Regions from separate parts of the Homo sapiens genome. Here region 1 is linked to region 2. Evidence: fine-mapped expression QTL. Tissue or cell type: whole blood. Region 2 holds a variant in brackets; the other region holds the start of a gene. All regions are shown on one strand. Distances are between the middles of the regions.

The links. PIP is the estimated chance that this variant, and not a neighbour inherited with it, causes the effect.
Region 1: it holds the start of SBK1, and the variant in region 2 is fine-mapped to the expression of SBK1 in whole blood (INTERVAL, PIP above 0.99).

Annotation. Positions count from the first base shown.
Region 1 is chr16:28,290,983-28,293,740 of GRCh38, forward strand. SBK1 (SH3 domain binding kinase 1) reads left to right here and starts at 1,543. Exons shown (of 4, transcript NM_001024401.3): 1 at 1,543-2,318. LOC124903670 (a long non-coding RNA gene) reads right to left here and starts at 1,083. Exons shown (of 2, transcript XR_007065033.1): 1 at 785-1,083. RefSeq lists silencers at 1,035-1,206, 1,414-1,643.
Region 2 is chr16:28,270,685-28,273,442 of GRCh38, forward strand. It overlaps a transcript of SBK1 not described here. Among named protein-coding and RNA genes, the nearest start is that of SBK1, 20 kb to the right of the region's middle. The variant T/C (reference allele first, on the strand shown) is at 1,282.

The DNA of each region.
Region 1 (2,758 bases), 20 kb after region 2:
GTCTCCAGTTCCCCTCTTCTCCACCCTCTCTATCACTTTACATGCGACCCCAGTCGCTCATGTCTGCGCCTGTAGGTACTTGCGTTTGCAATCCCTGGCTCCTAAAGCTCTGGAAACAGTCGGGAGTGGCTGGGAGGATTACGCTGGGTTGAGAAAACAGCCTGATCAAAAACTTAGAAGAAATAGGGGCAGTCATAAAAAATGATGAGTTCATGTCCTTTGTAGGGACATGGATGAAGCTGGAAACCATCATTCTCAGCAAACTATCGCAAGGACAAAAAACCAAACACCGCATGTTCTCACTCATAGGTGGGAATTGAACAAAGAGAACACATGGACACAGGAAGGGGAACATCACACACCAGGGACTGTTGTGGGGTGGGGGGAAGGGGGAGGGATAGCATTAGGAGATATACCTAATGCTAAATGACGAGTTAATGGGTGCAGCACACCAACATGGCACACGTATACATACGTAACAAACCTGCATGTTGTGCATATGTACCCTAAAACTTAAAGTATAATAATAATTAAAAAAAAGAATGAAAAAGAAATGCTTTTGAAGCTTGAAGCTAAAAAAACAAAAAAAAAAGAAAGAAATAGGGAAGGCGTCCTATTGGGGCTTTCTCACTAGGGAAAGAGTGAGCTGCAGGGAGGAGAAAGAACAGGGCCTGGAAGGACGAGCTGTCCCTATCTCATCTCTGTCCCCATCCACCCACTTCATCCAGGCCACCAATTTCCGGTTATCAAACAGACAATGCAACATCCCTTACACCTGCTGTACCTCTGCCTAGAATCTCCTTTCTTCCCTTCTATCCGGCGAGCAGTTCCTCCCAGCTGCACTCCTGGACTAGTCACTGCCTATTTGCAGCAGGGATCGCAAAGGCGACCTCAGTTGGATAGGGCAACCACCCAGGCCCAAGTTTATGACCTCTTCCCCAAGAAGACTGTGAGTTCTCTGACGTCTCGCTGGAAATAGGATGCATGGATGGATGGATGGATGGATGGACGGACGGATGGATGGATGGATGGAAGCGCAGGCAGGCAGGCGGACGCATGGATGAATGAAATGCATATCCGAATGCAGAACCTGGATTTGTTTTCCCTCCTTCAAACACACACAGGCTCCGCCCCACTAGCACAGACCGGGACAGTCTGGGGCAGTCTCGTCCCGCAGGGCCCAGAAAGCTGGACCAGGTGACCCTCTCAGACTCCCCCGAGTCCTCTGTAACCTCGTTCTCGCCCCCTCGTGGGCTCTGACCTAGAAAAGGAGTGGGGTGGGTGGGGGGTGGGGGGTGGGAGCCAGCTCGGGAGCCACCGGCGCTAGGACCCAGCGCGGCCGGAAGGGGGTGGGGGCGCCGCGCGGGGAGAATCTGCGCTCCGCGGCGCGCGGCGGGAGGGCGGGCGCGCGGCGGGTGAGCGCGCTTGCGCGAGGGCGCGCGCCGAGCGGGACGGACAAAGGGGCGGGCGGCGGCGCGCGAGCCGGAGGGCGGAGCCGCGGGCCGGGCGGGCAGGTGCGCGCTGGCTGGAGGGCGGAGCCGCGATGCCGCGATGGAGCGCAGCCCGGGCGGGCGCCGGGGCCGGGGCCCGAGCGCCAGGCGGAGCGCGAGCTGGAGCCGCAGCCGGAGCCCGGGCCAGGCCGGGGGCCGGGAGCGCAGGGCCGGGCTGCTCGTAGCGGCGGCGACCGAGCCCCCCAGCGGCTGAGGGGCTTCCAGCGCCCGCCGGTGGCCGGGACCCACTAAAGCCCCCGCAGCCGAGGAGTGCGGGGAGCCCCCTTCCACATCCAGGATCCGGCGAGCCTCGGGGAAGAGGGGGGGCCCTCCCGGATCCGACACCGAGCGACTCCCCTGCGGGGAAAGCGGAGACTTCCTCGGTATTTAGAAGACAGCAAGCCCCCTACGGCACCGCAAGGACTCCCCCTCCTCAGTCTGGGCCCCCGCCCCAAGACCTAGAACGCAGTGCCCCCAGGCCGGGATTGCGAGAACCCCCTCCCAAGATCCGGTCATTACAACTCCACACCTCAAGACAAGAAGACCCAGCTCAGAACGCCCCTAGATCAGGGGATCCCAATTCCCCCCAACTCCGGTACATAGAAATCCCAAATCTAGGCAGCCGGGGACAGCAAGAGACACTCTCACCAGCAAGAAGCCTCGGGGATCCCCCCCCTAAAGCTCCAGGACTTGGGCGACTGAGCCCCTGGCGGCACCGCTTGCACCCCGGTCCATGGTCGTGGCGCCCTGAGCCCCCGGGGCCGGGCAGACGAAGACCGCGACGGCGCCCAGGCCCCCTGCCGCGGCGTCCCCGCGGCCCCAGCCCAGGTAAGCCGGGCCCAGGTGAGGGGCGGCAGGTGAGTGGCCACCGAGGTCCCCATAGCCCTGCAGGTGGGGAAGGAAGTATCGGGTTGCGCGCTCCCCCTTCCCCAGCGTCGCCATGGAGCCGAGGCTGAAGGACGTCTCTTTGTGTCTCGCTTGGAGGAGCCGCCCCCTCCTCCTCTCCCTTCCCCCACCCCACTCCCTAGCCTTGAGGCTCGGGCGCAGCTCCCCGGCCCCACGGAGGAGTGGTGGTGGAGCCCGTTGTGCCATGGAGAGGGGGGAAGAGGGCGGAGAGTCCCCCCCCAAAAGCTGCGAGCCTGGAGGTTGGCCCCCAGGTCCTTGGAGTGTGAATACCCCTCCCCCACGGCCAAGCTGAGCTTCTAGTGAAGTCCCCCCGAGAGGGGAAAATTTGGGGGTGCCCACAGGTGAGGGGGGCTGCCTTATGT
Region 2 (2,758 bases):
AGTGCTGGGATTACAGGCATGAGCCACTGTGCCCAGCCCTCAGCATAGAATTCAATACTTAGCCAAACTACTAATAAAGTGAGAGTAGAAAAAACAATATTTTCAGATTGGCAAGAGCTCAAAAATTTTACCTCCTATGCACCCTTTCTTATTTATTTATTTATTTATTTATTTATTTATTTATTTATTTATTTTTTGAGACGGAGTCTTGCTCTGTTGCCCAGGCTGGAGTGCAACAGCGTGCTCTCCGCTCACTGCAAGCTCCGCCTCCCGGGTACATGCCATTCTCCTGCCTCAGCCTCCCGAGTAGCTGGGACTACAGGCGCCCGCCACCACGCCTGGCTAATTTTTTGTACTTTTAGTAGAGACGGGGTTTCACCATGTTAGCCAGGATGGTCTCGATCTCCTGACCTTGTGATCCACCCGTCTCAGCCTCCCAAAGTGCTGGGATTACAGGCGTGAGCCACTGCACCCGGCCTACGCACCCTTACTTGAGAAAGCTACTGGAGGATGTACTCCACTAAAATAAGGGAGTAAACCAAGTAAAACAAGAAATAGTAAACAAGAAAAACAATAAAGAGTAAGACCTGGGCCAGGAGTAGTGGCTCACACCTGTAATCTTAGCACTTTAGGAGGCCAAAGCAGGCAGATCACCTGAGGTCGGGAGTTGAAGACCAGCCTGGCCAACATGGTGAAACCCCATTTCTACTAAAAATACAAAAATTAGCTGGGCATGGTGGCACACGCCTGTAATCTCAGCTACTTGGGAGGCTGAGACAGGAGAATCACTTGAACCTGGGAGGCGGAGGTTGCAGTGAGCCAAGATCACACCACTGCACTCCAGGCTGGGTGACAGAATGCGACTCCGTCCCCCCACCCCCAAAAAAGAGAGTAACATCTGGACTCCAGGAAACAGGAATTGAATGTAAGAGAGAGGAGAAGAGAATCTCGCAGTTCACACTCAAATAAGAGAAGAGATCTCTTCAAGGAGATGAAATTGATAGAATACCTAATGTTTTTGAATTTTGGAGACATTTACACAAGTAGGGGAGAATATGGGTTGACTGATATATAAACATGTAGGTAAACAAGTACTCCCCTCTCCAAAAAATGTTATCAAATCCAGGAAAACCGAAACTTTTGAACAGAAAAGGGAAAGAAATTTAAAATGAAAATTTCTGCCCTGCAAAAGACTCTGCCAAGAGAATGTGAAGAGAAGCCACAGAATGGCAGAAAATATCAAGTGCTCCTTGGTATTTACCCAAATAAGTTGAAAATTTA[T/C]GCCCACAGAAAATCCTGCACATGAATATTTGCTAGTTTCGTTTTACTGTGGTAAGGACACTTAATGAAATTTGTCCTCCTAACATATTTTTAAATGTACAATACATGTATAATACATGGTTGTTTTTTTGAGACATGGTCTTACTCTGTTACTGAGGCTGGAGTACAATCACAGCTCACTGCAGCCTCCATCTCCTGGGCTCAAGCAATCCTCCATCCTCAGCCTCCAGAGTAGCTGGGACTACAGATGCATGCCACCATGTCCAGTTAATTTTTAAATTTTTTATAGGGACAGAGTTTCGCTATGTTGTCCAGGCTGGTTTCGAACTCCTGGGCTCAAGTGGTCCTCTAGCCTCAGCCTCCCAAAGTGCTGGGATTCCAGGTGTGAGCCCCTGGTACAGAGTTACACAGCAGCTCTTTAGAGCTTATTCATCTTGCTTTATTGAATCTTTATGCCTACTGATGAGCTATTCCCCAATTTCTTCTGCAACTCTGACAACTATAGAACCAAAATCTAGGAATTAGACTTCTTTAGATATCCCATATAAGTGGAATTATGAGATATGTGTCCTTCTGTGGCTTATTTTGCTTTGCATAATGTCCTTGAGTTTCATCTATGTTGTCACATATTTTTTTTCTTTCTTTCTTTCTTTCTTTTTTTTTTTTTTTTTTTTGAGACGGAGTCTCACTCTGTCACCCAGGCTGGAGTGCAGTGGCATGATCTTGGCTCACTGCAACCTCTGCCTCCCAGGTTCAAGCGATTCTTCTGCCTCAGCCCCCTGAGTAGCTGGGACTACAGGCATGCCCCACCACGCCTGGCTAATTTTTGTATTTTTAGTAGAGATAGGGTTTCACCATATTGGCCAGGCTGGTCTCGAACTCCTGACCTTGTGATCCACCCACTTCGGCCTCCCAAAGTGCTGGGATTACAGGCGTGAGCCACCATGCCTGGCCTGTCATCGCATATTTTTAAGGCTTAATTGTAGTAGTCCCTGTTGCATGTATAGATCACATTTTTTTCATCCATTCAACCCATTTGGGTTATTTCTACATTTGGCTATTGTGAATATTGTTGTAAAGAACACAGGAGTGCTAATACCATTTTGAGAATTATTTTTTTCTTTTTTTAGAGACAGGGTCTCATTATGTTGCCCAGGCTGGTCTCGAACTCATGGCCTCAAGCAGTCCCTTCACTTTGAACTCCCAAAGTGCTGGATTAAAGGTGTGAGCCACCGCACCTGGCCTCTCTTTCAGATTTTTTTTTTTTCTTTTGAGACAGAGTTTCTTTCTTATTGACCAAGCTAGAGTGCAATGGCGCAGTCTCGGCTCACTGCAACTTCCGCCTCCTGGGTTCAAGCAATTCTCCTGCCCCAGGCTCCCAAGTAGCTGAGATTACAGGCGTGAGCCCCCATGCCCAGCTAATTTTTGTATTTTTAGTAGAGATGGGGTTTCACCATTTTGGCCAGGCTGGTCTCAA